2 separate regions of the Homo sapiens genome follow, and region 2 is linked to region 1. Evidence: fine-mapped expression QTL. A gene starts in region 1. The other region holds a variant in brackets. All regions are shown on one strand. Distances are from middle to middle.

What was found. PIP is the estimated chance that this variant, and not a neighbour inherited with it, causes the effect.
Region 2: its variant is fine-mapped to the expression of EHHADH in whole blood (TOPMed, PIP above 0.99).

Annotation. Positions count from the first base shown.
Region 1 is chr3:185,249,360-185,266,125 of GRCh38, forward strand. It overlaps EHHADH (enoyl-CoA hydratase and 3-hydroxyacyl CoA dehydrogenase), which reads right to left and starts at 4,690. Exons shown (of 7, transcript NM_001966.4): 1 at 4,590-4,690. The coding sequence starts at 4,663. MIR5588 (microRNA 5588) reads right to left here and starts at 3,913; the gene lies at 3,851-3,913.
Region 2 is chr3:185,207,958-185,224,723 of GRCh38, forward strand. It overlaps EHHADH (enoyl-CoA hydratase and 3-hydroxyacyl CoA dehydrogenase), which reads right to left. Exons shown (of 7, transcript NM_001966.4): 5 at 10,179-10,283. Among named protein-coding and RNA genes, the nearest start is that of MIR5588, 37 kb to the right of the region's middle. RefSeq lists an enhancer at 393-442. The variant C/T (reference allele first, on the strand shown) is at 7,531.

The sequences.
Region 1 (16,766 bases):
GCTCGTGATCCACCCACCTCGGCCTCCCAAAGTGCTGGGATTACAGGTGTGAGCCACCGCGCCCAGCCTGGTTTGGCTCTTTATCCCCACCAAAACTTCATTTCAAACTGTGATCCCCACGTCAGGGAGGGACCTAGCGGGAGTTGATTGGATCATGCCAGTGGTTTCCCCCTGCTGCTGTTCTGTGAGGGAATTCTCAGGAGATCTAGTGGTTTATAAGTTGCAGTTTCCCCTGCACTCATGCCTCTCTCCTGCCACCTTGTGAAGAAGGTACTTGCTTCTCCTTTGCCTTCCACCATGATTGTAAGTTTCCCCAGGCTTCCCCAGCCATGTGGAACTGTGATCAATTAAGCCTCCTTCCTTTATAAATTACCCAGTCTCGGATATGTCTTTATAGCAGTGTGAAAATGGACTAACACAAAAATATGGTTGCCCAAAATAAAGACTATATTTTCCAGCCTGCTTTACAGTAAGGTCTGCACAAGGAACTAAGTTCTAGCCAATGGGATGGAAGCATATTTGGTATATGCAACTTTGGGGAAGAGTTCTTAAAGATTTGGGTATGCTTTTCCCTTTTTCTTTCCTCCCTATTCCTGGCACCAGTGATGGTTAGATCAGGAGCAGCCACCTTGGATCAGGAGGTAGAAGCTATGTATTGAGGATGGTAGAGCAAGAGATAGACAGAGAAAATAATTGAGGCCCCTGTTGATTGTGGAGCAGCTGTATCATTCCAGGGCACTGCTGTGAGAGAAATTAGCTTTTTATTGTCTAATTCACTATTATCTTCACTATTCTGTCAGTGACAGCCAAGCGTAATCTTAACTAAGATAAGATATAAAGGCAAGATAGTGGAAAGATAGGGCATGTAGCAGATTTTGCCAAGTTTTAATATATGAGGAAGTCATCTGCAGAAGAGATAGCTAAAACCAAGACTGAATGAGTCTACCAAAGGAAAAGAGAGCTGAGGGCAGATCCTCTGGATATATCTTCATTTAAGAAGTGGGACAAGCTCAGCAGAGTGATTCAGCAAGTGAGCTCAAAGTCACAAAGACCAAGAGAGAAAATTTGTGAAGAAGGAGGGGATTAATAAGTACCAAGCAATAAGAGAATCTAGGGCAAGTGGTGAGGAACTGCTTAAAAGGAAAAACCACAGAACCAGATTCCAATCAGTTTTGCCTTGGAATTCCAAGTATTCTGAGTAAAATCTCTGTTCTTTAGTACACAGGGTTAAAAATAAATTTTAAAACAAAACAAACAACAACAAACTTCTGTAAAGGCCATATTGTTAAGACCAACAACTATTAGTTAAAACCCCAAGAAATAAAAAGGATACTTGCCCTTATTTATAATGATTCCCTTACACCTAATTACTTTTCACCTCTTAACCTAGATGAAATCAGACAAAACCTCTTGGCTTCAGCTGGTTAATTAGAAGCCAAATCTGACCATGAAAAGCAAATTCAGAACCATTATATAACATCAAAAAGTCCAAAAGGCACACATTTCCTTCTGAATAAACAATGCTTACAAAACTAGCCAAAATTAGCTCAATCAGTGCCACTGAGGAGAAGAAACCAGCTTTTCCCATTTCAACCTATCTTCCTTTTTTATGTTCATAATTTTGCAAATATCAAAAACAGGAAAAAAATGAAAATAGCTATAACAGATACGCACTTTACTAGATTCAAGCTGACAGAGAGAGTCATAGCAATGTAAAGGCCGCAGAAGTTATGAAATTATTTTCTCCTGTTAATACTGTCAGGCATGAAGAAATAGAGTCTGGAGTAGAGACAGCATTTCATGACTACTGACCAAAACTCTTCAGCTTCTTTGACTATAGAAGGTCTTTCCTTTTTTTTTTAGACAGTTTTTTTTTTTAAACCAAAAGTCATCAAATCAAGTTTGTGGCTTGTGACCAGGATTTTTTCAAAGAAAAAGAAGAGATGAGAAAATAGACTATATCAAACAATATACCAAGTAAGGATAGGTTTTGTTTTAGGAAACTGCTTTCGGTTACGTGTTTGTATGTAAGTGTGTCTTGAATTGCTACGTAAAAACGTGAGCTTTCTTACTCTGTGGATTACAGTAAAGCAATCGTGTGAAAGCCATTGTTCTGGGAGACAGGCCTATTAATCAGGCATGTCCTATACTTATAAAGAGGGCTGGTGTTTATCTGAATGGAAGCAAACATGGCTGGCTAAACTAGCAATGAAGGATTTAAACTATTTGTTTTGGGGAAAAAATTTATATGTGTGTGTGTGTGTGTGTGTGTGTGTGTGTATTACACTCAAGTAAGAATCTCTCAATCAGCTAGGAGGAGACGACTTCCCATATAAAATTAGAAATAGGAAGGGGAAAAGGAAGAAAGGGAGGAAAGAAAAAGTGTAAGAAAAAAATTGAGGAATCTGTTAAACTTGAGGAACTCCTAGGATGTCCATTTCTACCTAAAAAAGTTCAGAAGACAGACAAAAAAGGGCAGAGAAGTACTTATTCCCAAGTGGAGAATATCTTCTTGATGAAACTGAAGTGGGTCCTGAGTAGCAGGGCCTGTTTTTGGGGCTTGAACAGGTCTTCTGACTAATAGGAATAACTAACATCTATTAAATGCCACTTCATAATTTCCAGCTGATTTAAACTTCACAACTTTATGAGGTAGGCCCTAACATTTCTCCTGCAAAGAGGATGGGGGTGGCACAGGTGGTTGCATGGGTGGGCAAGGAGAGCAGGTTAAATTCCAGAAATATTAAAAGCAATTGTCAGAGGCTGGGCACGTGGCTCATGCCTGTAATCCCAGCACTTTGGGAGGCCGAGGCAGGTGGATCACGAGGTCAGGAGATTGAGACCATCCTGGCCAACATGGTGAAACCCCGTCTCTACTAAAATACAAAAAATTAGCTGGGCGTGGTGGCACGCACCTGTAGTCCCAGCTACTCGGGAGGCTGAGGCAGGGGAATCACTTGAACCCGGGAGGCAGAGGTTGCAGTGAGCTGAGATCACGCCACTGCACTCCAGCCTGGCGACAGAGCAAGACTCCGTCTCAAAACAAGCAAATGAGCTTAAAAAAAAAAGAAAAAAAAAAAACAGTTGTCAGAAAATATTCCTAGTCATGGGTATTAGAGTATGGAACTTTTCCCCCTAAGGTCCTAATATCTAGCAATTCTAATCAGTATATAGACCAGTCCAAAATTGACATGTAATCATATTACTTACATTTTTCTTTGTCAAAACCAATATAACAGATATTTTGCTTTTTATTCTGGGAATGGCAAGTTAGTAGACATGTCATCCTTATGTGATTTTAGTCCTGCATTTTTTGACATTATTAAATGCAATAATTCATAATGAATTAATATTAATACTAATGATAAATCAAATCCAATGACAGTAGGATTTTTAAATTCTATTAAAATTAGCAGGTCTTCTCATTTCAGTCTCTTTGCTTCAGCAGCATGTTATAAGAATTTTGACCAAAGACCTTTCTCTCTATGCTTTATATATTCTTGATAAATTATAATTTCCACTAATCTTATTCCCTGTGGATAGGTAATTCTTTTTCAAGGCTGACATATAATTATTTTTTTAAGAGATGTAGAAGGACCAAACCAAATAATCATTACTTTTCAAAAAGGCAACATTGATCTCACTTTTTAATGTTTAAAGTGCACCACACAAGGCAAATACTCCCCAGTGAGAAAAAGAAGATAAGGTGCAATTTTTCAGAAAATGCTATTGCATAGGCTTAGTCTGATGTGAGTCTTCCTTGGAAGCACCAAAGTCCTGAGGTTTAAACAAATCAGGAGAAATAATTTTGCGTTTCCGGGCCAGGGCAAAATTCTGCTTTAATCACTGAGCTGGCATTAGTGGGACTTTTAACATTAAAAAAAAAAAAAAAAAAAGTCCCACTAATGCCAGTGATTGCCCTATTCCTAAAGCCTTTAGCCAAACATTGTAAGGACAGCCTGGACTCAAAGAAGGGGAGTGAGGCTGGATCAAAGTCCAACATCAAACTAAGTTAAGACCTTTGGATTAGAAAGTCGGCCTGCACACTGGGACCTGTTGTGGGGTGGGGGGAGGGGGGAGGGATAGCATTAGGAGATATACCTAATATTAAATGACGAGTTAATGGGTGCAGCACACCAACATGGCACATGTATACATATGTAACTAACCTGCACGTTGTGCACATGTACCCTAAAACTTAAAGTATAATTAAAAAAAAAAAAGAAAAATAAAAAGTCGGCCTGCAAAGCCAAAGTTGCAAGTAAGCAGGAGGGCTCCGCATGAAGGACAGGTCGAGGCCAACTCCCTAAGTGTTGATCTGTCTCAGCCTCAGCCTCAGTTTCCTTATCAGTAAAACGGGGACGAGAGTTCCCTGCGAAGATTAACCAAGCTAATCTAGGTTAAAAAAAAAAAAAAAGAAAAGAAAAAGAAAGAAAGAAAAGAAAAAAAAAGTTCCTGGCATGTACCAGTTGCTCAACTCTTGAGTGTCCTTCTCGGTTTAAACCGACGGGGGAGAGTCAAAGCCTCCGGAGCCAGAGGGCGGCTAAGGCCCGCACGGTCCCCGGGCTGGAGGCGACCGAGCCCGTTACCTGATCGCGTTGACCGGCGGGTTTCGGAGGCGGATTAGCGCCAAGGCGTTGTGCAGCCGCGTATACTCGGCCATGTTTCCTCTATCACCGAGGGCACCTCTGCCTCTCGCCGTCAGGCAAACCACTTTTCCGGGCGCGCCCGGCCTCCTCCAGAGGAGGGACGCCGGCTGGGCCAATGCGAGCCGGGGCGCCGCCTCCCGCCGCGCCTCTTCCCACCCAGCCCTCCTCTCCCGAGACCCCACCCGGCGCTCTACAGACGCTTGTCGCTTTCCCTTTATTAACTCCCATGCTGCTCCCACCAGAAGGTACAGCAAGGAGAATGATGGAAAACAGCTGTAATTGCCGGCAAGTCGAAGTTTGTAACCCCTTGGCCCATAGGGGCTGGCTACTGAGGACAAGTTCTGAGTTCGCTGAGACGGGCAAGCTGTCCTCATCGCGGTATTCATCTTCATGATCTTTCTGAACAGGGACAGATACCTGGGGCCCTCCCTGACAGTTATGTGATATTGATACACATCTGGAACACATAAAATACACATTGTTCATTTCACCTAAATGAGTAGGGTACTAATGAAACAGCCTTTGCAAAAATTCTAACAGTGAGAAAATTATGGCAGTCAAAGAGATCTGATTTAACCAACCCCATCTTGCCTTTAGCTGCCCTTAATTATTCCTGAGCTTAGGCCAAGTTAACTTTGGGAGACATTTGGTTTATAGTTTAAATGATAATAGCCCTTCCCCAAAACTCAACTGCCTTTGTAAAGCTAACCGAGAGACCACCAGGCTAGGAGGACAGAGGAGTGTGAATTCTCTCTGCTAAGGTGTAAACATAGACCATTGCCAGCCATTATTCCGGAAGCCACCAGATAGACAACTTCCCCATTTACTCCTGCAGGTAACATTACTATTGTAGAACCTAAGTTTGGCCTTTTGAGATATTTTTTCACGTTTGCCTGACACTGATGGCTCCACCTGGACCAGTCAACAGCTCCTGTGGCCCCACCCACAAGCAACTCAGTACAAGAGGATAGCTTCAACCCCTATGATTTCATCTCCAACCCAACCAGTCAGCATTTTCCATACCCTAGCCCCTGCCCACCAAACCACCTTTGAAAAACCCCTAACCTACTAGCCTTCGATGAGATTGATTTGAGTAATAACTCCATGTCCCATGTGGCGTGGCCAGCCTCACATCAATTAAACTCTTTCCTTACTGCAATGCTGTGGTCTTCCTGAATTGATTTTGTTTGTGCAGCAGGCAGGAAGAACCCATCCAGTGATTACTCTAACATCAACCAAATACTTATATAACATTGTTACTAGAGGAGGGTCTGGACTGCAAGTTGTCCAGGTTCTTGGCGTTTTGAACAAAGAATTGGACGAAACACACAAAGCAAGGGAAAAACAAAGCAACAGAAGCGAATATTTATTGAAAACGAAAAGACACTCCACACGGTGGGAGTGGGCCCAAGAAAGAGGCCCAAGGGACCTTGTTACAGAATTTTCTGGGGTTTCAATACCCTCTAGAGGTTTCCCATTGGTTACTGGGTGTACGCCCTATGTAAATGAAGAGGACGAAGTGAAGTTACGAAGTCATTTACTCAGTGTACACCCTATGTAAATGAAGAGAATATTTCCTGTCATAGCTGAAGTGTTTCCATTTGATTTAGTTCTAGAAAGTCTTTAGGTTCCCTGCCTTCAGGCCCTATACTCCTGCCTCAACATCTTTTTTTTTTTTTAATTTTTATTTTTTGAGACGGAGTCTGGCTCTGTCGACCAGGCTGGAATGCAGTGGCGCGATCTCAGCTCACTGCAAGTCCGCCTCCCGGGTTCACACCATTCTCCTGCCTCAGCCTCCCGAGTAGCTGGGACTACAAGCGCCCGCCACCACGCCTGGCTAATTCTTTGTATTTTTGGTAGAGATGGCGTTTCACCGTGTTAGCCAGGATGGTCTTGATCTCCTGACCCTGTGATCCACCCGCCTCGGCCTCCCAAAGTGCTGGGATTACAGGCGTGAGCCACCGCACCCAGCCCACAACATCATTTTTATTTGTCTTACAATCACATGCAACTAGCGAAACTGTTATGGGTGGACGGTGTCCAGGTTCTTGGCGTTTTGACCAAAGAATTGAAAATGCAAAACAAAGCAAGGAAAGAATGAAGTAGCAAAAGCAGAGATTTATTGAAAATGAAAGCACACTCCACAGGGTGGGAGCAGGCCTGAGCAAGTGGCTCAAGGGACCAGTTACAGAATTTTCTGGGATTTCAATACCCTCTAGAGGTTTGCATTGGTTACCTGGTGTATGCCCTATGTAAATGAAGGATGATGGTTGGGTGCAGTGGCTCACACCTGTAATCCCCGCACTTTGGGAGGCCATTGTGGGCAGATCACAAGGTCAGGAGTTTGAGACCAGCCTGATCAACATGGTGAAACCCTGTCTCTAATAAAAATACAAAAATTAGCCCGGCGTGGTGGCACATGCCTGTAATCCCAGCTACTCAGGAGGCTGAGGCAGGAGAATCACTTGAACCTGGGAGGTGGAGGTTGCAGTGAGCTGAGCTTGCACCACTGCACTCCAGCCTGGCAACAGGCGAGTCTCCATCTCAAAAAAAAAAAAATAAATAAATAAAATGACAATTTAAATGTTTAAATGGCCCATCAGGTAGCCAAATGTACCTGAAGCTTTGATTGTAAACCAAACATTGGTTATAAACTATTTTAGCAATTTATAAGTCAGCAAACCAGTATATATTTAATCTGGATCATTTTATCTTTTCCATGATGAGTCACGGAATGCAGAAACTTTAATAACAAAAGCTTTAAGGACTCAGGAAGAACAAGGTGGCCATCTTGGTTTTCCATGAGTCCATGCTTAACACTGGACTTATGTCCTCTTGAATACCAGTTGTTTCTCCAATTTAGGTGCATAGCACTGATAACTAATGGGTTTTCATAGCTGATTTGACTTAGACCATGGAGTTCAAATGACTTTAAATAGTGATAGTTAAAAACACTATTGACAAGGAGATTTGGTTATTTCTGTGGTCTACAATAACACAATAATTATGATTGATAGCATATACTCAGACATATTAGAATTTTAGAAATTCCATACAATTCTGGAACATATATTAATATCATTCACTAATATATAACCTGAAGATGATTAAACATTATTTTTTATTTTCACAATGCTTCCCATGTAACTAAACATATCAAATAATCCTGTTTACCTCTCTTTTGGATGGTTCACGGGCCTGCTGTAGCATCTCAAAGTTTGAGGTCAGAAAAGACAATTTTGAAGCTGCAATTTGATTTTGGGAAGCTTGTTAAATGTTTATAAAAATTAACATTCTCATGCCTTCTCATTATATTTTACCATTCATTCAACCAGTTTGCACAAAGAGGGGCCAGAAGTCCAACTGGTAAGAAATTCTTACCCTTTTGCCGGCATGTCAGCTTTCTTGAGTTCTCTCTCCATGAGCAGCCCTAGTGACCCTGCTCAACTGTATGCAAACAAACACATTGCTATGAATTAAGAATATTCACAAACAATTTACAAATTTTGAAGAAATTAGGCAGAGAGAGAGAAATATGACTCAAGTTCTATTTACAAAAGTATACTCAATATACTTAAAGTATCAGGAAGCCTAATATCCAAAAAGTTAGTTTAAGGTTAAAAAGCTTAGTGTGCTCCACCAATTCCTGTGAGCTCAACAAAGGTAGCCTAGGAATTCCAGATAAATGGAACAAATGATGACTTGGTAGAAATGCATAGAAAATAAAATAACTATTCACAGAACCAAATAAAAGCCTTCCACTAGAAACTAAAACAACAAACAAAAAAATGGTTTTCTATTTATGCGACCACAAGCAAAGCCTGGAGGAGAATAAACAGCAAACAAATGAAAATTAGAAGCAAAAACAAACAGGAACCCCACCCTAAATTTTTCCTACTCAATCTACCCTGGAGGCTACAGTGTTACTCAGGGCCCCCAAACACCCATATAATGAATATTTTATTCCTGATACACCATTCAATATCCTTAAGTCCACCAATATCATCATACATCCTGTACAATCAAGAAATTCACTCTAGGCACATGACCAATAAGTACTCCAGTGCCAGCACTATCCATGCAAAACAGTAAACGGTGTGAAGCAATGCATGCATGTATGTGAAATTTAGCTCCATACTTAACCAGCTTCATGCTTAAGTATATTAAAAAATATACTTATATTTCTTATTTTACTTTAGGCAAGACTAAGAGCTCTAACTATGAAATGTTAATTAGTCAAATTTCTCCAATTTTCTATCAGGTTTTAAGGAATATTTTATTATCTAAACTTTTTTTTTTCACATTTCTCTCCCCTACTTACTGGTTCCTTACTACATTGTTTCATAAATAACCTTTTCTTTTTTTTTTTTAATTATACTTTAAGTTCTAGGGTACATGTGCACAACGTGCAGGTTTGTTACATAGGTATACATGTGCCATGTTGGTTTGCTGCATCCATCAACGCGTCATTTACATTAGGTATTTCTCCTAATGCTATCCCTCCCCCAGGCCACCACCCACCGACAGGCCCTGTTGTGTGACGTTCCCCTCCCTGTGCCCATGTGTTCTCGTTGATCAACTCCCACCTATGAGTGAGAACTTGTGATAGTTTGCTCAGAATGATGGTTTCCAGCTTCATCCATGTCCCTGCAAAGGACATGAACTCATCCTTTCTTATGGCTGCATAGTATTCCATGGTGTATATGTGCCACATTTTCTTAATCCAGTCTATCATTGATGGACATGTGGGTTGGTTCCAAGTCTTTGCTATTGTGAATAGTGCTGCAATAAACATACGTGTGCATGTGTCTTTTTTATTATTATTATACTTTAAGTTCTAGGGTACATGTGCACAACGTGCAGGTTTGATACATAGGTATACATGTGCCATGTTGGTTTGCTGCACCCATCAACTCATCATTTACATTAGGTATTTCTCCTAACGCTATCCCTCCCCCAGCCCCCTACCACCTGACAGGCCCTGGGGTGTGATGTTCCCCGCCCTGTGTCCAAGTGTTCTCATTGTTCAATTCCCACCTATGAGTGCGAACATGAGGTGTTTGGTTTTCTGTCCTTGTGAGAGTTTGCTGAGAATGATTGTTTCCAGCTTCATCCATGTCCCTGCAAAGGACATGAACTCATCCTTTTTTATGGCTGCATAGTATGCCATGGTGTATATGTGCCACATTTTCTTAATCCAGTCTATCATTGATGGACATTTGGGTTGGTTCCAAGTCTCTGCTATTGTGAATAGTCCTGCAATAAACATACGTGTGCGTGTATCTTTATAGTAGCAAAATTTATAATCATTTGGGTATATACAGTAATAGGATTGCTGGGTAAAATGGTATATCTAGTTCTAGATTCTTGAGGAATCACCACACTGTCTTCCACAATGGTTGACCTAATTTACACTCCCACCAAAAGTGTAAAAGCATTCCTATTTCTCCATATCCTCTCCAGCATCTGTTGTTTCCTGACTTTTTAATGATCACCATTCTAACTGGTGTGAGATGGTATCTCATCGTGGTTTTGATTTGCATTTCTCTGATGACCAGTAATGATGAGCATTTTTTCATATGTCTGTTGGCTGCATAAATGTCTTCTTTTGAGAAGTGTCTGTTCCTATCCTTTGCCCACTTTTTGATGGGGTTGTTTTTTTCTTGTAAATTTGTTTATTTGTAGATTCTGGATATTAGCCCTTTGTCAGATGGGTAGATTGAAAAGATTTTCTCCCATTCTGTAGGTTGCCTGTTCACTCTGATGATAGTTTCTTTTGCTGTGCAGAAGCTCTTTAGTTTAATTAGATCCCATTTGTCTATTTTGGCTTTTGTTGCCATTGCTTTTGGTGTTTTAGTCATGAAGTCTTTGCCCATGCCTATGTCCTTAATGGTATTGCCTCAGTTTTCTTCTAGGGTTTTTATGGTGTTAGGTCTTACGTTTAAGTCTTTAATCCATCTTGAGTTAATTTTTGTATACCGTGTAAGGAAGGGATCCAGTTTCAGCTTTCTACATATGGCTAGCCAGTTTTCCCAGCATAATTTACTTACTAGGAGATCCTTTCCCCGTTGCTTGTTTTTGTCAGGTTTGTCAAAGATCAGATGGTTGCAGATGTGTGGTGTTATTTCTGAGGCCTCTGTTCTGTTCCATTGGTCTATATATCTGTTTTGGTACCAGTACCATGCTGTTTTGGTTACTGTAGCCTTGTAGTATAGTTTGAAGTCAGGTAGCGTGATGCCTCCAGCTTTGTTCTTTTTGCTTAGGATTGTCTTTTAGATAACTTCTGAATTAGACAAAATTATTCTTTTTCTCATAAACAACACAACTTTTTCAGGCACATTTTGTATACAGAATTATGTGTTAACTAGAATTCTTATCCTTAGTAACCTAAAACTTTAATGAAATCCTAAAAAGCAAGAAATCCTGAACTATCAGATATGGGCATTTTTAGATAAGAACAATTATACAATTATACATATTTCCCCATATCACAAACCTTTCTTAATTGGAAATGACCCAGATATTCAATGAACAACCCAAATAATTTTAAGATTTTAATTTACATAAAAAGTTTCCCTAAAACATTTATTCCATTCACTGCACTCAGTTCATTCCCCTTTTTGTTTTTTGTTTTTTTTTTTGAGACAGCGTCTCACTCTGTTGCCCAGGCTGGAGTGCAGTTGTATGGCCTTGGCTGACTGCTACCTCCACCTCCCAGGTTTGAGCAATTCTCCTGCCTCAGCCTCCTGAGTAGCTGGCATTACACGCGCCTAGCCATCGCGCCTGGCTAATTTTTGTATCTTTAGTAGAGACAAGGTTTCACTATGGCTGGTCTCAAACACCTGACCTCAAGTGATCTGCCCACCTAGGCCTCCTAAATTGCCGGGATTACAGGTGTGAGCCACTGTGCCTGGCTAATTCTTTTACTTTTTTAACAGTTTATCTAGATTACTTCTGTAAACTGAGGTATTAGACATTATCATTTAAAGTTAGTTGTTTCCTTGTTAACCATGTTTTCAATAGCCAGTGAACATCAGGTGCTCACCTAAACCTAAGTAAGAGCCTCAAAGTTAAATACATTGGTATTTTTACCAGTAACTCAGAAGATTTAGCAAATAATATTAAATTACTCTCATTTGTCAAAAAAAAAAAAAAAAAAAGGCACTCAAACCAAGATCATTTTGTTTTGGCTGGGTTATAGTTTTATAACCTTCTATGCCAAACACTGACATCTCAAAGTATCTAGCAAAGACAAACATAAAATCCAGACCAACATGTATGCTGACAGTTCTGAAGGCATACCTATTTTTATTTTATCAATAATTTTAAAACAAACTTGTTTAGTAAATTATACTTAAGTCACATGAATTTGAAATTGCTTAGATTTATTTACTTAATATATGAGTGCTCTTTTACTTATGTCAACTTGGTAGACATCATATAACAATAAGTGTACATACAAATAACCACATCTAGACATGTATACACACACACACACACACACAAAGATCCGATAGCTTGGAATGCTAGCCATGAGATAGCAATATAGGCTTGCCAGTTTTACTTTGTTTGCCCCAATAGGTAATACAATGCTGTGAACCAAAATTTCAGGTAAAGCAGTTTTCACGGCAGTTTGATATTTAAAGGCCAAACCTCCCCAGATTCCAAAGAACACTGGGGCCGAACAGCACCAAAGAGAACCTCACATACTAACCAGTCCTGACCCTGCTTAAAACAGCAGCCCAAAAGCCTGGATACATGCAACTCCATTCCACTTTTCCATTCAACAGCGAACTCCAGATTCCAAACAATATTGGGGCCAAACAGTATTGCAACTGCCAGAGAAAATTCTAAGCAGGGCTTAGTACTAGGCCTCAGAACCTCTGCCGAGGGTGTTTCCTTTGGAGAGGTTGAGGTCCAGAGGATCCCCCGGGGCACCCCCTTTGGGGTCCAATCTGAGTGTCAGACATCTCTGACTTTATGTGGGCACAGGTGCTGCTTTGCATGTTTTCCTTCCAGAGGCAATGCCCTACTCTGAGCTTTCCTTTGGTTCATGGGTATAATCCCCGACTTTTAGCATCCTTATAATTTGATAAGTCTGCGCTTTCCCATGCTTCCCATTCCACGAGAGTGATAGCCATGAACTGTAATGATAGAACTGGAGGCTGGGTGAGTTTCTCTTGTCCTCAGCTGAATAGGGTAAGGGAAAAATTTAGCATAAGACAAGAAGGGTTGGCCAGGTGCGGTGGCTCACGCCTGTAATCCCAGCACTTTGGGAAGCCGAGGCGGGTGGATCATGAGGTCAGGAGTTTGAAACCAGCCTGGCCAACGTGGTGAAACCCCATCTCTACTAAAAATACAAAAATTAGCCAGGCGTGGTGGAACACACTTGTAGTCCCAACTACTCAGGAGGCTGAGGCAGGAGAATCACTTTAACCTGGAAGGTGGAGTTTGCAGTGAGCCAAGATCACGCCACTGCACTCCAGCCTGAGTGACAGAACGAGAATTCGTCTCAAAAAAAAAAAAAAAAAAAAGAGGGTTTAAGTCACCTGAAACACATTCGAGTTCACCCTGCGTTGCACCACACATAGTTAGCTATAATTTAAAGGGAATTATTTATAATAGTCTTTTAAGATTGGTCCCCTATATTAAAACAAGATTTTCCTAAGGTATTGATTTGCTCTTACTGAAATTAGAAAAAATTTTACTTTCAATTTTATAATCTATTTCCTTTATTTATATTATTTATTTTTTTAGAGACAGAATCTCGCTGTGTTGCCCAGGCTGGAGTGCAGTGGCACAGTCTTGGCTCACTGCAGCCTCCGCCTCCCAGGTTCAAGCAATTCTCCTGCCTCAGCCTCCCAAAGTACTGGGATTACAGGCGTGAGCCACCACACCTGTAATTAAAATTAAAATTAAAAATTTTTAATTAAAAAAAATTTTATTTATTTATTTATTTTGAGATGGAGTCTCGCTCTTGTTGCCCAGGCTGGAGTGCAGTGGCATGATCTCAGCTCACTGCAACCTCCACCTCCCAGGTTCAAGCGATTCTCCTGCCTCAGCCTACCGAGTAACTGGGATTACAGGCATGCACCATCACGCCTGGCTAAATTTTGTACTTTTAGTAGAGACGAGGTTTTACCATGTTGGTCAGGCTGGTCTTAAACTCCTGGCCTCAAGTGATCCCCCCGCCTCAGACTGCTGAAGTGGGATTACAGGCGTGAGCCACTGTGCCTGGCCTATGTTTTTTTTTTTTTTTGGAAATGGAGTTTTGCTCTTGTTGCCCAGGCTGGAGTGCAATGGTGCGATCTCGACTCACCACAACCTCCACCTCCCAGGTTCAAGTGATTCTTCTGCCTCAGCCTCCCGAGTAGCTGGGATTACAGGCATACGCCACTACGCCCGGCTCATTTTGTATTTTTATTAAAGATGGGGTTTCTCCATGTTGGTCAGGCTGATCTCGAACTCTCGACCTCAGGTGATCTGCCTGCCTCGACCTCCCAAAGTGCTGGGATTACAGGTGTGAGCCACTGCGCCCAGCCTGCCTATTTCTTTTAAAAACTCAGAATCACATCTCAGAAGTTCAACTTTTGCCAAGTTTTGCTGCTCTCAGCTTTTTTTCTGCTTGAGAAGGCCTGAGATGATCTTTCCTTCAGCTTTTTTGCCAGCTCCTGTAACTTTCTTTCATTTCCTCTAATTCTAACTATTATGACCTGATGCTAAAATGTATTATCTTGAAGGTCTAGAAAAGCAATGTTTTCCTGTAGCATAACCTGATTCTGTACTTTTGGCTTTTCTTGATATGCCAAAATTTTCAATGTAATCAGAAAACTCTTCTTTTCTTTCTCTTTTTTCTTTTTTTTGAGACAGAGTCTCACTCTGTCGCCCAGGCTGGAGTGCAGTGGCGTGATCTTGGCTCACTGCAAGCTCTGCCTCCTGGGTTCATGCCATTCTCCTGTCTCAGCCTCCTGAGTAGCTGGGACTACAGGCGCCCGCCACCACGCCCAGCTAAGTTTTTGTATTTTTAGTAGAGACGGGTTTTCACCATGTTAGCCAGGATGGTCTCGATCTCCTGACCTTGTGATCCGCCAGCCTTGGCCTCCCAAAGTGCTGGGATTACAGGTGTGAGCCACCACATCCGTCAGAAAACTTTTCATACTATTCCTTAGAGTCATGTATTCCCCCTGCTATCCTCATAACCTTGAACACACTCTTTCTGTGTCTGATTAAATTCAAGCACTTTTATCAAGTTTGACTTCCAGGTTATCTAAATGGGCTTCCCATAAGTAGAAGCAGTCACGCTGCAATAGGTTTTTCTTTGTCTTTTTGGTAACCGGCTTAAGAAATAAGATTTTATCATTCCTATGCTGTCTTTATTAGGTTTTTGATTGCTAAAACAAACAAACAAAAAACAAAACAGGCCCAGCACAGTGGCTCATGCCTGTAATCCCAACACTTTGGGAGACCGAGGCGGGCAGATTACCTGAGGTTGGGAGTTCGAGACCAGCCTGACCAACATGGAGAAACCCTGTCTCTTACTAAAAATACAAAAGTAGCCGGGCATGGTGGTGCATGCCTGTAATCCCAGCTACTTGGGAGCTGAGGCAGGAGAATCGCTTGAACCTGGTGAGAGAGGACTAGCTGGATTTCCTAGGCTGACTAAGAATTCCTAAGCCTAGCTGGGGAAGGCGACCGCACTCACCGTTAAACACGGGGCTTGTAACTCAGCTCACACCTGACCAATTAGGTAGTAAAGAGGGCTCACTAAAATACAAATTAGGCTAAAAGCAGGAGGTAAAGAAATAGTCAAATCATGTATCGCCTGAGAGCACACAGGGAGGGACAATGATCGGGATATAAACCCCCAGCATTCGAGCCGGTAGGGGCAACCCCCTTTGGGTCCCCTCCCATTGTATGGGGGCTCTGTTTTCACTCTATTAAATCTTGCAACTGCACACTCTTCTGGTCCGTGTTTGTTCCGGCTCGAGCTGAGCTTTCTCTCGCCATCCACCACTGCTGAGTGCCGCCGTCGCAGACCCGCTGTTGACTCCCACCCCTCCGGATCCGGCAGGGTGTCGGCTGAGCTCCTGATCCACCCAGCAAGGCGCCCATTGCTGCTCCCGATCAGGCTAAAGTCATTGTTCCTGCATGGCTAAGTGCCCAGGTTCGTCCTAAATGAGCTGAACACTAGTTGCTGGGCTCCATGGTTCTCTTCCATGACCCATGGCTTCTAATAGAGCTATAACACTCACCGCATGGCCCAAGGTTCTATTCCTTGTTATCCATGAGGAAAAGAACCCCAAGTCAGAGAACAAAAGTCTTGCTGCCATCTTGGGAGTGGCCGCCACCATCTTGGGAGCAGCCGCCACCATCTTGGGAGTTCTAAGAACAAAGACTCACCCTGTAACACTGGGAGGCGGAGGTTGCGGTAAGCCAAGATCATGCCATTGCACTCAGGCCTGCGCAACAAAAGCGAAACTCCGTCTTAAAAAACAAAAAACCATCTGATATTTAAAAGGGTTACAGTTTTTACATCCATTTAACTTTCTGTATTGCCTTTGAGGTTTTTTAATTATCACTTATCACTCTTGGTTAAATGTATGACTTATTTTACAATAACCTGTGATTCTGTTTTAATCAAATGTTTTGAGCCTGTTTACATCTTAAACAAATGTCCTCAAAATCAACATCCTAAATTAAGTCTCTCAGTCTTATTACCGGGGCTTATTGAGGCTACAAAAATTAATCACTGCAAGGCTGTAGAATCTTTCTACAGCTTCTAGTCAGACCATGAACTCCAGTATCACCACCTTAAGCCTCATAATTACATATGCTGGAAGAAAACCAGTTAAAGGACTCCTTCTTGTCCCCTTAAAAGGGTCCTTATCAGGTGTTATTAATTAATCCTTGTGCTATGTTACAGGGCTTTGACTCCTGGGTACACATATCTCATCTGAAGAAGACATTGAGTCCTGCCAGTATCTCACACCAAACCCAAGTTAACCAAAGCCTTGTCTTTAGACCTGAGCAAAAGTGGCAAAGTAAACTGCTTTTTTTTTTTTTTTTTTTTTTGAGACGGAGTCTCCCTGGCTCTGTTGCCCAGGCTGGAGTGCAATG
Region 2 (16,766 bases), 41 kb before region 1:
AATATGCACACAAAAAGATGCTCGACATCATTAGTCATTAAGGAAATGCAAATTAAAACCGCAACAAATGTGGTAGACAGACTCTAAGTAATGGGCTGTCATTTCTAGATTAGGTTACAAAAAGACTCTGGCTTCAGTCTTGCTCATACTTTCTTGCCCTCTCAAATTGGTCACTCTGATGGAAGCCAGCTGCCCTGTTGTGAGCCACCCTATGGTGAAGCCCACGTGGCAAAGAACTGAGGGAGGCTTTCAGCCCACAGTCAGTGAGGAACTGAGGCCCTCAGTACAACAGCCCATACGGAACTGAATCCTACCAACAACCGCTTGAGTGAGTTTGAAAGCAGATTCTCCCCCTGACCCCTAATCAACCTGAGATGACTACAGCCACAGACAACACCTTGATTGTAGCTTTGTTTGAAATCTGAAAGCCAGAGGACCTAGGACACTTGGATTCTGGACCCACAGAAATTGTGGAATAAATGTTTGATTTTAAGCCACTAAGTTTTGGGGTCATTTGTTATGCAGTTAGACTTACTAGAATGACTATAATAAAAAGCCATCACTACTGAATGTTGGTGATGATGTAGAGAAACCAGAAGCCTCATACGTTGCTTCTGAGAGTGTAAAACAGCACATTGCTTTGGAAAACAGTTTAGTTGTTTCTTAAAAAGATAAACATAAACTGATTGTTCAACCCAGCAATTTCACTCCCAGGAATCTACACAAGAGAAATGAAAGCATATGCCATAAAGAAAACTTGTCTACAAATATTCATGGCAGCATTATTTATAATAGCAAAATCTGGAAACAATCCAAACATCCATCAGCTGTTGAATGACTAAAGAAATTTGATAGAGCCATGCAATAGAATATTATTCAGCAATAAAAAGGATCAAACTGTTGATACATGCTACAATACAGATACAGATGAGCCTCAGAAACATTATGCTAACTAAAAGAAGCCAGATGCAAAACATTACATATTGTATGATGCCATTTAGATCCAAGGTCCAAAAAATGCAAATCTATAGAGACAGAAAGATCAGTGGTTGCCTAGGGCTGGGGATGTGAGTAGGAGTTAGTGTTAATGGGCATGAAGAAACTTTTTGTGGGAGTGGACAAGTCTTAAAATTGATTTATGGGGATGGCTGCACAATCTATAAGGCAAATCACGCCTCATTAAAACTGTTAAAGTGTATCTAGAAATGAATTTATCAAGAAAGGTACAAGACCTTTCAGAAGATAACTATACCATTTTATTGAAGAACATAAAATAAGACCTTAATAAAAACAGAAAAGCACCATGCTTCTGGATATAAATATTTAATAGCATAAAAATATATTTTCCATATGTATTATATATGAAATTTTAATAAGAATCCTTATGGTACTATTTTAAAAAATAACTTTACAGAATGATTCCAAAGTTTTCATAAAATAATAAATTCATAACAACTTACAGTTACCAAAACTTCAGCTATACCAGAAGTTGTTTTCTATAATGTACTGGCATCTCTTAAAAAATAAAACCATTTTATCAAAAATGTACATCTTAGTTATTTAGACAGAAAGCCTACCAGGGCTTATACCAGAGCAGTTTCACCATAAAAAGACATATGAACATAAGCGCATCTGGCATTGAGCCCCTCTGGCATTGGTGTGTTAGGCGTGTCCAAGGGAACGTGAGTAAGGTTTGGATGTAATCATGTGCACATGGTAATATAGATATATTGTATAATCTCAGCCTCCTTTTTAAATCAAAGAGACAAGAATATTTTCTTAATGCTTGATTAGTAAGTAGTGTTGGAAAGAATGAGTTTCTGAATTAATGATTTCCCATATGATGTTAAAGAATAGGATTCAGGAATGGAGAGAAGACAGTGGTTATAGGCATGTGGTCCCTCTCACCCTACTACTTTGAAAAAACATGAACCGTATCCAATAGGCCCACCAATTACTTGCTCAATTACCCAAAGAGTTAGCCCAATCCTCAATTTAAGGGAAAGCAAACTCAGCAGAGAAGAATGGGGACTCCCCCAGGGTCTACAGATGATTTAATGTGCCGGTGACCTAAAAGGAAGACAAGAATGGACAATGGGGAGAGGAAGGAGAGAACAAGAGCATGGAGGCACAAGCGGAGGAGGAAGGCAGGCTGGGCTGCCGGTGCAATCTATGCCATGTAACAGGGCATAGACAGCGCTGGGATATCTTAGAGTTGGATCTCTGTCTTGTGATACTACCTCTGTTCCCAGCATTCCTGGGGGTGCTTCTCAACATCATAGCACACATCAGATTTATTTGAAGAGTTTACGAAGTTCAGATGCCCACATCATACCTCAAAATTAACTGCTGAATTTTTTAAGAGTAGCCATGCCCAGGCCTCACCATAGATTCAGTTAAGAATCTTTGCCGGGCACAGTGTAATCCCAGCACTTTGGGAGGCCGAGGCAGGTGGATCATGAGGTCAGCAGTTCAGGACCAGCCCAGCCAAGATAGTGAAACCCCGTCTCTACTAAAAATACAAAAATTAGCCAGGCGTGGTGGGTGCCTGTAGTCTCAGCTACTACTCGGGAGGCTGAGGAAGGAGAATCGCTTTGAATCTGGGCGGCAGAGGTTGCAGTGAGCCGAGATTGTGCCACTGCACTCCAGCCTGGGCGACAGAGTGAGACTCTGTCTCAAAAAAAAAAAAAAAAAGGGAATATTTAAAGGTGGGGCCTAGTAAGACTATTCTTGAAAAGTTCAGAAGCTGATTTTAAGGTATAGCCTCTGGGAGCTCCAAGAGCAGAGAGTGTTGTCCGCCACTGAATCAAGGACAGCTGCAGTTCCTGGCAATTTCATTTTAGGCCAGAGATTGAAAAGAAAAGATGGGAAAAAAAGAGAGGAGAGAACAAAACTGAAATGAAAAGAAAGCCTGCTTAATGGTGTGCAGTAATTAGTTCTGATCAGCATAATCCTATTATCCCGGGGACACTGAAAACCTCGCAGACTGCATATGGGCATTTTGGGAGCTATCCAAGGCACTTGTCTAGACCAGTCCTAGGGCCAAACTAAGCATACCCACTGGAAAATTTTGGATCCGGGCACAATCATAGATGGTTTTTCCCTGCTCAATTTCCTATCTCTTTCTTGCTACAGCTATAACTAAGGATGCTGTTATCTTACAACTTCAGTTATAAGATATTCAGAATTTCCCCTTTGGGTGTATAAGTACAGTTGTTTTCAAAGTGTATTTCTTGTATACTTGGTAGTTTTCAAGTCACTCAGCAGTACCTATACAATAAGAGAGGCAAGTGTCAGTATGTCAGCATCAGCATTGGCTGCCCAGGGAAATGGGGAGGAAAGGAAGTAATCAGTGATTCAAATATACTATTAATTGAATTCTTTCCTTGACCCATTCACATTTTTTCTTAGTTCTATGAGGTATTCTATGACATTTTTGATAAAAAAGATAAGTGAGTCACGTTTCTGAAGGAACAAAAGGAGGTGATTATTTTCCCTTCTTCTTCTGCTGTAATGGCAGGAAAAGATTTTCTCTGCCTAGGCTAAAGAGAGACTCAACATGCGGTTCACGGAAATCGTGAACACAGACATCAAGGAATCTGTCTCTCTCTCTCTCTCTAACCCTGATAAACAGAAAGCTGTGTCCATCATAAAAGCTTTGCAAAGGACAGACAGAATAACTGCACATTAACAGGCTTCAAGAAGGTGACCCACAGAACTTGTCTAGCAGGTAAAAAGGAAGCTCAATTTAGACATGTGCGTAGGCCTCCTATGTAAGGCAGGTCACTCTGCTCTTTTGAAACATGTTCATATAAATGTTCACAGCGGGTAAAAATAAATTACAAAGTGAAGAAGATAAAATGAAGAGAAAGACAAATAAAACCACTAAGGTTTTTTAAAAGCCACAACTCCAAAAGAACAAATAGACCAAGGTCTTTAGGCAGAATTAGAATTGTTAAAAGTGGCTAACACAGCCCAGCACAGCCACAGGAACAGGACCAGGGTTCATTACAGAAAGGAAAACGGAGCATTAGGTTCCAGAGTTGACACTCCCAGCTGGATAATTCCCTGTGCCCATTCCAGCTGGGGAAGGTAGAGAGAGAGAGAGCCTTTAGTCTCTTGGTCTTTGAATAACAGCACACACATTCAGCATCATGCCAGAAACATGCACATGAGAACAGGAGTTCTTAGTTCAGAAACAGGCAGGCTGCTAGCCACATGCATGTGCAAATATATAGCATTTTATAGGATGCTCCCCTCCCTAGTTTAGCCAATGCAATCTGGTTTGGCCAAGTAATTCTGCATTGCACTGCTAAATCCATTGCACTGCAGTAGTCTGGGAGGCTTCATAGAATACGAACATTAAAATGCATAAAGCTAATGAACTTCCACAGTCAACTCACCAGGATACAGTGTTAAGTTTGTAGAGAAATGTGCCGCTAAGTCCCAAATTGCGTTTTAGGTATGTTAACCTTCTACACTCCCTTCCCACTCGTAATTGGTTCCAAAAGTGCTGATTGGAACCTTGACCATTGGAAATTCCCTTTTCTCCCTCCTTTCCTATAAGAAGTAGAAACTAAATAAATGTTCTTCATCTTCTTCTTTCGTTGTTGTTGTTGTTTTAAAGCAAACATTTGAGCAGTGGGAGTGAGAATAGGCTGAATAATTGGAATATGGTTACAAATGGGAAAAGGGAATACAAAAATTCAACATGTATTTTTTTAAGACAGAGACAGACTTTGCATACCACAAAAGTCACCACTTTAAAGTGTATAGTTCAGTGTTTTTCAGAATATTCACAAGGTTGTGCAACCATATGTGTATGCATTTTAACCATGCCTTTCATAACTGATTTACAAAAATATCTTTAAGACTATAGCAGCTGGGTGCGGTAGCTCACGCCTGTAATCCCAGCACTTTGGGAGGCAGAGGCAGGTGGATCACTTGGGGTCAGGAGTTCGAGACCAGACTGGTCAACATGGTGAAACCCCGTCTCTACTAAAAACACAAAAATTAGCCGGGTGTGCTGCCTTGTGCCTGTAATCCCAGTTACTTGGGAGGCTGAGGCAGGAGAATTGCTTGAACCCAGGAGGCGGAGGTTGCAGCGAGCCAAGATTGCACCATTGTACTCCAGCCTGGGTGAAGAAGCAAGACTCTGTCTCAAAAAAAAAAAAAAAAAAAAAAAAAAAGACTATAGGTAGTGTTTGCGTGTCAGGTGTAAAAAAAATCAAAACTAGCAAAAATTATCTCCTTTCTTACCCTTGTTCTCTGTATATCAATGGTTCTCAAAGTGTGGTCCCCAGAACACAGCATCAACATCACCTAAGCATGTTTGTTAGAGATACAAATTCTTGGGCCCCACCCCAGATTTAATGAATCAGAAAGTAATGAGTGGGGCCCTGCTAACCGTGCTTTAACAAGCCCACCAAAAAGCAATTTTGATGCACAGTGAAGTTTGAGGACCATGGCTCTAGATCAAGACAATTGCTCTAGCTTTCCATAACTATAGATTTCTAATAAATGCATATATATTTAATGTAATTAACATATTGAATTTTTGTGGAAACTTTCCTTCAAGTTAATCCATCAATTTTGTTCTGCTAAATGACCACACACTAACCACTGTATTTAAAACAAAGAGGCTGGGTGCGGTGGCTCACGGCTGTAATCCCAGCACTTTGGGAGGTAGAGGCGGGTGGATCACCTGAGGTCAGGAGTTCAAGACCAGCCTGGCCAACATGGTGAAACTCCATCTCTAATAAAACTACAAAAATTAGCTGAGTGTGGTGATGCATGCCTGTAATCCCAGCTACTCCAGAGGCTGAAGCAGGAGAATCAATTGAACCTGAGAAGAGGAGATTGCAGTGAGCCGAGGTCATGTCATTGCACTCCAGCCTGAGCAACAAGAGCGAAACTCCGTCTCAAAAAAAAAAAAAAGAAAAAAAGAAAGAGAAAAAAGAGGAAAGTGGGGAAGCACAAAAAGAAAAGATAGGCACAATACCTCAAATGAAAATGAAAGGCAAATAAATAGGCCTCCTTAAATTATAAATTTGGTAAGAGAATAAATGGCAAATGTTGACAAGATTCTGAGTTAATCCTTGGTTGATCTGTCTTTTTCTCTACCTTGATCTCCAGCGTTTGTCTATTACAAAGCAGCACCAAGAAATCATAGGATTTCAAACAGTGGAACTCATTTAAAAAAGAAAAAACAGTAAAAGTCCTAGGGTTTCCATGGGATTCTAATCATTAAACCCCAAAACACACATTACACCCCAAAACCTTGCTTGAGTTGTTGCAAGGACAAATAACTAAGCACCCAACCACTGTAGCCTGTGAGGTCTCAGAACATGATTTGAAACCAGCTAATTTTGTTGAACCCTTTCTTTTACCAATACATAAAACAAAGCCCCAAAGATGATTTGTTAAGGTCCCGTAGCTAAAGCTGAGACCTCTGTCTCTCCTGACCTCCAGTCCTGAGCCCATTTCTCTAACAGACTGCGTCCTTTCCACACTGGCCTCCCAAAGTCATCCATTTTTTTGGGGGAGGGGGTAAATTTAATGACTTAGATATTAGGAAAAGATAAATTTTTTTTCAAATCAAGAGTCTAGATTACCTACCACCCAAGTACAACCACTACTGAAAATTTGTTACATCGCCTTATAGTTTTTTCCTTATGCAGGTACATATAAGAACACACGCACACACTTGTAAAATTTTCTACCTGGCTGTTTTCTTCTTAATACTATATGTAAGCAATTTTCCAAGTTCTTCAACTTTCTTTAAAAATGGAAGTTGTAATAGCTGAATGGAGTCAGTTCATTGAGATTATCGTTTTTACATAATTAATTTCCCAGAACTAAATATTTGAGTTGTTTCCAATATTTTATGATAATCTAAAAGCTTTAGTGAGTATTACTGTATACAAATCTTTGTGTATTTATGTGATTATTTCTCTATGGTAAATTCCTAAGAATAGAAAAACTAAGTGAAAAGGTATGAGTAATTTTAAGCCTCTATAAGTGATTGTCCAGCTGCCTTCTAGACAGGATGTATTACAAGCATTCTAATGAGAGCTTATTTAAACTCAGTCTCACCGTATTTGTTCCATCTGTTCTGATCTGCTTGGCAAAAATTAGTGTCTTTTAAATCACTGATTTTTTTATTAATAAATTTTAAAAAGCATTTAAGAGTCAAGCATACACTTATTACAACCCAGCAATACTATTCTCAGGTATTTACCCAAGAAAAAGGAAAAACTATGTCTACAAAGACTTGTGTAGGCCCAAAGTGGAAACAAACTAAATGTCCATCAACTGATAATGGATAAACAAATTGTGGTTTACCCACAATGTGGAATACAAGTCAATAAAAAGGAACAAAATATTAATGCATGCAACAATAGGAATGGCTCTCAAAAACATTATACAAAATAAAGCCAGCCACAGAAGACTATATACTACTGCATGATTTCATCCATATGAGATTCTAAAAAAACCATAAAAGTATGACAGAAAGTAGGTCACTGGTTG[C/T]CTGCGGCCAAGGGGAAGAAAAAAGGATTTATGGGAAAGGGGTATGAGAATACTTTTTAGGGTGATAGAACTATATTTTGATTGTGGCCATGGTTATACAACTGTAAACAACTACCAAAATTCACCAAACTCCCCCTTAAAATGCATGAATTTTATCTGTAGAAATTACACCTCAATACAGCTGGAAAAAATAAAAACAAAACCAAAAATAATTTAGAAATGTTTGAGAAAACTAACTTATCCTAAGCTGGAGAATAAAACAAAACAAAAGCAAAAATCACTTAAGAAATTTTGGAGAAAAACTAACATTTTCATTTTTGCTTATTTCCTTTCCATTTGTATCTGTATTCATACATACTCCAGATAATGATCATTACTCTATACACGATTATATACTGTATAATTGCAAATACATGTACATTTATATTCTACACATTTTTATATCACAATTTTACATTTTTCTATATAGTTTTCATGATTATAATTTAAAATAGTAACACATAATTGTCTAAAGCCCTGAAGTGTTAAAAGGTGAATTACAGGTTTAAAGCAAATGGTGCCTCAATATTTGGATGCCACCAAGTGGACAAACTGTATAATGTCGTTGAGATGAAACACTATTTTGTAAGTTTTATAAAGTAAAAATGCTTAATTTAATGTTTACAATTAATTTTAAATTGTGAATAAATTAAAGTTATAACCAGACCATTTTAGAAATGTAGCTAAGGTTGAGACCTGGATCCAGGTCTCCTAGATCATGAACCTCAACTATTTCTTGAAGTAACTTAATTCTCAAATCAGAATCTAGGGAAATCACTTAAGGAAAAGAACTTCCTGTTGAAATTGAGACCTTTACAAACTAAAACTACAGATGTGAATGACAGACACGGGTCTACCTTTAGCAAACCAAAGAATCATTTCGGGACCTCCAAATGCAAATAGCCTTTGCTGTGTGTCTGTCAAGTGACTTCTAACAAAACAATAAGCCCCCTCGGGAAGCACAATGATGAAAACACAGTGAAGGTTGCCTGAAAGGCCGAGAAAAATAGTAGGAAATTTATTTCTATTTGGGCAAGGACTTGCTGATTCTCTTTAGGGGTCTCCATTATTTTCTCCCCATCGTTCCTCCCCTCTCCAGTTCAAGCTTTTACTTTCACATTGAAACAGTAACTGGCTAGAGCCACAAAAAAGAAAGATTATTTCAGGAAAGTGTTTGGTCTCTGCCAAGGTCAACAAAAGAATGACTCCTTCAAAAGAATGCCTTTGAATGACACTGGGCCATTGCCTGCCACCAAGCGGGAGACCAGCACTCTGTTCTGCCTGTAACGCAATACTCTTCCCAATTATTTTTTTCTGGCTATTTTTACCCTCTCCATCTTGCTCATTTAAAGATGACAACATCCATAGACTGAAAAGAAACTGTGAAACAAACAAAAAAACCTCTGTGAGTGCCACTGAAAGAACTCTGAAAGGAACATCCCGAGTCCATAAAGTAAGAAACCACTGAGAGAAGGACATAACTCAGTTTGCGGAGACAGAAGTTCTCAAGGCCCACAGTTTTACTGCGGTAAATTATAGAGCCTGTGATATGGTTTAGATGTGTGTCCGCTCCAAATCTCATGTTGAAATGTGGTCCCCAGTGTTTGAGGTGGGAGCCTGGTGGGAGGTTACTGGGTCATGGGAGCTGATCCCTCAGGAACGGTTTAGTACCATCCCCTTGGTGATAAGAGAGCTTTCACTTAGTTGATGAGAGATCAGCTTGTTTAGAAGAGTTTGGGGCCAGGCGCGGTGGCTCATGCCTGTAATCCCAGCACTTTGGGAGGTCGAGGCAGGCAGATCACGAGGTCAGGAGTTCGAGATGAGCCTGGCAAACATAGTGAAACCCCGTCTCTACTAAAAATACAATAATTAGCGGGGCATGGTGGGCGGACGCCTGTATTCCCAGCTACTTGGGCTGCTGAGGCAAGAGAATCACTTGAACCCAGGAGGCAGAGGTTGTGGTGAGCCAAGATCGCGCCACTGCACTCCAGCCTGGGCAACAGAGCGGGACTCTGTCTCAGAAAAAAAAAAAAAAAAAAAGAGTTTGGGACCTCCACACTTCTCTCTTGCTCTCTTGCCATATGACGTGCCTATTCCTGCTTCACGTTCAACCACGGGTAAAAGCTCTGAGACCTCACCAGAAGCTGAGCACATGCTGGTACCATGCTTGTACAACCTGCGGAACTGTAAGCCAATTAAATCTTTTTTTCTTTATAAATTACCCAGCCTCAGGATTTTCTTTTTTTTTTTTTTCTCGAGACGGAGTCTCGTTCTGTCGCCCAGGATGGAGTGCAGTGGCGCGATCTCGGCTCACTGCAAGCTCCGCCTCCCGGGTTCACGCCATTCTCCTGCCTCAGCCTCCCGAGTAGCTGGGATTACAGGCGCCCGCCACCACGCCCGGCTAATTTTTTGTATTTTTTAGTAGACACGGGGTTTCACCGTGTTAGCCAGGATGGTCTCGATCTCCTGACCTCGTGATCCGCCCACCTCGGACTCCCAGAGTGCTGGGATTACAGGCGTGAGCCACTGCGCCCGGCCAGGAGTTTCTTATTTAAATGAACATGTATCCTGTTTACAGTCTTTGGCTATTTTTATTATTATCTTCTTACCTGAAACTCTCTGAGCAAATCTGATTGCTTCTTCAACCGGGTCTGAGTTTACAACTTTATCTAGAATGCCCAGCTTGAGTGCTTCATCTGCTAAAATACGTCTTCCTGAAATAAACAACAACAACAATAACAACAAATCAAAGAGCGATGTAAGATTAAAGCAAAAGCATTACTCTCTCTAGTAGGAAAGGCTGTCTGTCTGGATATAAATATCTATTATTGAATAAAATAAGTAAGAACCACACTCACTGAAAGAATAGAAAGATCACCACTGAGGTAACCAGGAAACTTGGATTCAAGCTCCAGCTCTAGTTTCCACTATTTGTGTGACCATGAAGAACTGCACCAGGACCACAATTTCCTCATTGGCAAATGGCAATAATTATGCTTATCTCAGTAATTCTGAGTATTAAGTGAGAATAACAGATTCTCTTTATATTCTATAAATCTCTATAGAAGTACTTTATGAACTACAGATCTCTATAGAAATGTGAGATGTTTAGTTTTTTATAATAATAATAGAAGTAGCAGCAGCAGAGTAATATATAGTATCTACCTTATCCCTAGCACACCCCATTGGCTGTGGATGGTTAAAAAAAAAAAAGGACCGGGCACGGTGGCTCACGCCTGTAATCCCAGCACTTTGGGAGGCCAAGGCGGGTGGATCACCTGAGGTCAGGAGTTCGAGACCAGCCTGGCCAACATGGTGAAACCCTGTCTCTACTACAAATACAAAAATTAACTGGGCATGGTAGTGGGCACCTGTAATCCCAGCTACTCAGGAGGCTGAGGCAGGAGAATCGCTTGAACCCAGGAGGTGGAGATTACAGTGGGCTGAGATCACACCACTGCACTCCAGCCTGGGCAAAAGAGATAGACTCCATCTCCAAAAACAAAGAAAAAGAGAGAGAGAGAAAATTTAAAAAAAAGATAGTCCCCAGACATAAATATAGTTAACTCAATGAGAAAAAAATTAAGTTGACATTCTATAAGGTATAATTAAAATTACCTAGGACAAATGGGATGGATTTCTGCCAGTTTTTGGCTACCCAGCATCTCAGCTCCTCCCTTAGTTTGTGGAATTGCTATTGTGTGAGCTTTGAAGCCCTGCCTTCTACTACAGAAGCTGAAAAGGACACAGATGATTAGACAATTGACAATTTGACTGTGGCAGCTGGAGTGTGGCCCATGACCCCAGTTAGTGAACTGAGTGCTCTGTTGAGGGTTTTTAGCTTGGAGTTAGTGACACTAAGCAGCAGCGACAGGTTAAATCTCATTTCACAGGTGCCAATATCTAGTGTCTGGCAGTGGTGGTGCTGGTATACTTAGCATCCAATCATGCCATTGGCATCCTCCAGTACAGAATGTCAGCAATAGGAGATATAGAAGTTTGATGAGGGTTTGCACCGTTCCTAAATTTGCCTTGACAGTTCTTCACCAGTTGTAAATATGCAATTTGATCTGCATATTCTGAGGTAAGAGGTAGGGGACATCAGCATCCCCTACCCCAGGGTCAGAAGGAAGAAGACAGTGACACATCGCTTGCTTTCTTGCCAGTACCATCTTGCCTTCTGAAAAGCAACCATCAAATCCATCTTGGTGGCAACAGTCCCACAGTCTTCACTGCACTTACAGTGTTGGTGGATGCCATCGGAGACAAACCCTCCATTCCTGGTTCTTATTATTGCTTCAGAGAACTACAAATGAGTTTTCTTGATTGGATAGAAAGTTCAGTGATTTTTTTTTGGTAGGTCTCTCTTTGAAAAGCAGTATTTGGGCAGTTTTCTGGAAGTATCTCTGAAAACAGGCTTTCAGATCTCCTTCTGGAGTAAGGAGTAGGGTAAGAGGTACATAAATGGTTTCTGTACATAAGTATCCTGTGTATAAAATCACTTTGGTAAGGAGAGAGTGAATCAGCCTACCCAGGTTAAGGGAACCAAGCAAACACAAAATGGGACATGGAAACCTGGATATTATTATAAAAGGATTTTGAGGTCAACTAAGCAGGGAGAATGTGAGCTACTCCCAGATAGACTAAAAATTTCTCTAGCTGTAATGATTTCTTCTGGCTTGGATTTCACAAAATTGGAAGAGTACCACTACTATTCTAACAGAGTCAATGGGATTCCAAGTACAGTCATATGCCATATAATAACATTTCTGTCAACAACACATATATGATGGTGGTCCCATATGATTACGATATCATATATTTACTGTACCTTTTCTATGTTAGATGTGTTTAGATACATAAATACTTTCCATTGTGTTACAAATGCCTACAGTATTCAGTACAGTAACATGCTGCACAGGTTTGTAGCCTAGGAACAAGAGGCCATACCATATAGCCTAGGTGTGTAATAGGCTATACCATCTAGGTTTGTGTAAGTAAACCATGATGGTCACATAACAACAAACTCGCCTAATGATTTCTCAGAATATATCTCGTTGTTCAATGATGCATAGCTGGACTTTTATCCTGTATCAAAGAACTAAGGATCTAAAGACATGGCTCTGTATATCCAATCCAGATTCTTAGGCTGTAATTTAAAATTGTTTTTTCTTATGACATCGTAAGTGTAGATGACAACCACTGTCCAATGGGCTCTAATAAGAACCCTGTGTGCCCTAAGGGAACTGAGGTTGAGAGTTTCTTCTCCAACCTGAGTAATCTCAATTTTTTCCAATTTTCTTGATAGCTTCTTTTCTAACCTTTACAATTTTTTTCCACATGGAACTCTTTCCAAATGTCATATTCAAGTTTTCCTAAAATTGTGCAGACTACTTAAAAAGACAGGTGTATAATTCTAATGTTAGCTTTCTTCTAATTCACTATGACCTTTTCTATGCAAATCAAAACCCCATCATATTCTTACTGTTTTTACCTCTTTTCTGCATGTTAAAAATAGTGATGTTTCTTTAAGCAGTGCTTTGGGAAAAGGCCAATCCTAGTTCATTTTATTTCTTTTTGTCAAAGCCAGTTTTCCTGATTTCTTCCAATAATCTTGGTTTCAGGCAATACTGCAAATAGGGCAACAAAATTATTCAATATTCCCCCATATACTTTAAGTATCTGTAAACCCTCAAATTTACAGACTCATTTTACACTATTATGATTTCCTCCTATATTTTAGGCTTCTTTGCTTCCTATTTTGTCTTTTGCACAATAAATTGTCTCATGTGCTTTGAATCCTGTAGTATGTTGGATCCTAAGCATCCTTTTATGAATTTGACATTACATACTTAAAATAGTTCACATTCTTTAAACTGTATTTATTATACCATTATAAATTAAAACTATCTAACTTGATTTATTGAAGGAAATAAATGTCATATTTCTGGTCTAACTCTCCTTTTATACACTACAGATTTATAAAATCATCCCCCCATTTAAAGGAAAAATCCATTTTTAATGCATATAGCCTCATGATATTTTTTTTTCTTTTTTTTTTTTTTTGAGATGGAGTCTCACTGTCACCCAGGCTGGAGTGCAGTGGCGCAATCTCGGCTCACTGCAACCTCTGCTTCCTGGGTTCAAGCGATTTTCCTGCCTCAGTCTCTCGAGTAGTTGGTACTACAGGCCCATGCCACCACCCCCGGCTACTTTTTTGTATTTTTAGTGGAGATGAGGTTTCACCATGTTGACCAGGCTGGTATCAAATTCCTGACCTTAGGTGATCCACCTGCCTTGGACTCTGAAAGTGCTGGGATTACAGGCATGAGCCACCGTGCCCGGCCCGCCTCACATTATTTTCTAATTTGGCTAATGTATACACAATTTTATATCATGGTTTCTATACGGATTTCTACTAGCAGTTATCAAACGGGTCTTAGGACCCCTTTGCACTCTTAAAAATTATGGAGAACTCCAAAAAGCTTGTGTTTATGTAGGTTATATATATCAATATTTACTGTATTAGAAATTAAAACTGCAAGCTTTTGTCTGGGTGTAGAAATCACAAGGCCGGATGTGGTGGCTCACACCTGTAATCCCAGCACTTTGGGAGGCCAAGGCAGGAGGATCACCTGAGGTCAGGAGTTTGAGACCAGCCTGGCCAACATGGTGCCCCCCGCCCCCTGTTTCTACTAAAAATACAAACATTGGCTGGGTGTGCCACGAGCCTGTGGACCCAGCTACTTGGGAGGCTGAAGCAGGATAACTACTTGAACCTGGGAGGCGGAGGCTGCAGTGAGCCGAGATCGTGCCACTGCACTCCAGCCTGGGTGACAGTGGGAGATACCATCTCAGAAAAATAAAAATAAAAAAAGAAAAATCACTGCAAGCTTTAAAAATGTTTCTTTATTAGTTCATTTTAAAATAATAAACTCACTGCATGTTAGCATAATGTTTTTATGCAAAATAATTATATAAAAAATTTAAAAATTAGGGAGAAGAGTGCAATTGTTTTATATTTTTGCAAATTTATTTACTGTCTGATTTAACAGAAGACAGCTGCATTCTCATTCTCCTATTGCTTCTGCATTCAATCTGTTGTGATATCACAAGGCATATTACAGTCTCTGGAAAATTCCACTACACATTTGTGAGAAAGGCAAGTAATGTCTTATTATTACGAAAATAGATCTGATCTCAAGGACTCTGTAAAGGTCTTAGGCCACACCCGAGAGTCCCTGGACCACACTTTAAGAACCCTGAGATTTAGATCATCATTCTTCATAAATATTACATAGCATCCTAGCATGTGAATATTCCACAGCATTTACTTGTGGCTGGTATAATTTTAGTTCCTTTGAAAGTAACCTTTCGTTTTATTTGTTTTTATCCTGGGGAAGCTTGCAGGATTCTATTTTCTGGAAGTTTAAAATCTTTACCAAGACACATCAAAGAATTATCTCCTCATCAGTTTTTCCAGGAAAATGGCATGCTTGTTAAAGTACAATCTCTGATGCTATTTAATGTCTGAAGAATTTCTTCTATTTTTTCTTTTGGTTATTGCTTTCATTTTTTTTGCCTTGTGCTTTGGGAGCACGTATTATTCAAAGCAGAGACCTCTGTTATGTATCTTCCATGTCTGCTATCTTCATTTACATTTTATTTATCTTTTTGTTAAATTCTTCTGAATTCTTTAGATGTGTCTCTTTTTATCCTCTATGTTGTTGATTCTGTAATCTATCCTACCACATCTTTTTATTGCTTCAAAAAGAAATTATTTTGGCTAAGGTTTTGATTTTAAATACGGTGTTCTTATTTAACAAAATATTTTCTTTTCTAGTTTAGAATAATGTGAGTTTTCTAAAATTTTTTGTTTTCTTTAATGTTTCAGCAGACTGACGTTTATGTTTCTTTTTTTTTAAGTCATAAAATATTTTCATAGGTTTTAGAGTTGCAGTTGTTTTAGTTTTAAGAATTTTTGTGTGTCTTTCTTTTGGTCATAGAACAATATTTGCTGATATTAATTATTTCTGCCTGAGAGCCTTGAGGTGCTAGTACTAAAAAATGTATAGCGAAAACCCACCTGGACCTACAGCTAAAAGGCAGGCAGGATAAAGATGTTACTCCCAATTCCTCTTTCCCCCCATAGTATTCTGGGTAGTAAGAGGTATCCCACCAAAGTCTAGAGCTCAAAGCCTGTCCTGTGAATGAGTATAGAGAAACTCATCAGGGCTGGGGCCAAGCTTTATGAGAATACAGCAGAGCTTTCTATGCTTTTCTGTGAACAAAGGGGACAGCACCTAGAAAATAAAACAGAAAGAGGAGCAGGACACTGTAGTCCTGTCAGTTGATTGGACAGAGAACATCAGCGAACGAACTGCAATATGATCAGGCATATCCTTTGTGGTTACTGCTAAAGATTCGTTCATTTTCAGACGGCATTCTAAGGAAATTGTGGAGAAGGTTGCTGTTGTAATCACTCTACTTTCCAGAATTACCTGTCTTATGGATTTCAGAAGATCAGAAAGGGTTAGCCACCTAAATCTATTTACTTATTAATTTCCTATGGGAACAGTGCCTACAAAGTTGGCACTTTTTTTCCTCATTCACATCAGTAGGGAATCTTCAACTTTCACAATTTAACTAATCTTTTTCTTTAACACCCTTTCTTAGAAAAAAAAAAATTTCGGCCGGGCGCAGTGGCTCACACCTGTAATCCCAGCACTTTGGGAGGCCGAGGCGGGTGGCTCACTTGAGGTCGGCGGTTTGAGACCAGCCTGGTCAACATGGTGAAACCTTGTCTCTACTAAAAATACAAAAAATTAGCCGGGTGTGGTGGCACGTGCCTGTAATCCCAGCTACTGGAGAGGCTGAAGCAGGAGAATCACTTGAACCCGGGAGGTGGAGGTTGTGGTGAGCTGAGATCGTGCCACTGTACTCCAGTCTGGGAGACAGAATGAGACCCTGTCACCAAAAAAAAAAAAAAAAAAAAAAAGAAAGAAAAAAATATTTTCCAAACCAAAGCAGGATTCTGAATATCGTGATTACTAATAGCTTTTGTATTAGTAGTGTATTACTGCTGTAACAAATTACCACAAACTCAGAGGCTTAAAACACACATTTACTATCTTATAGTTTAAGATGTCAAAAGTCTAAAACAGGTCAGCAGAAGGTGTTCCTTCTGGATGCTGTAA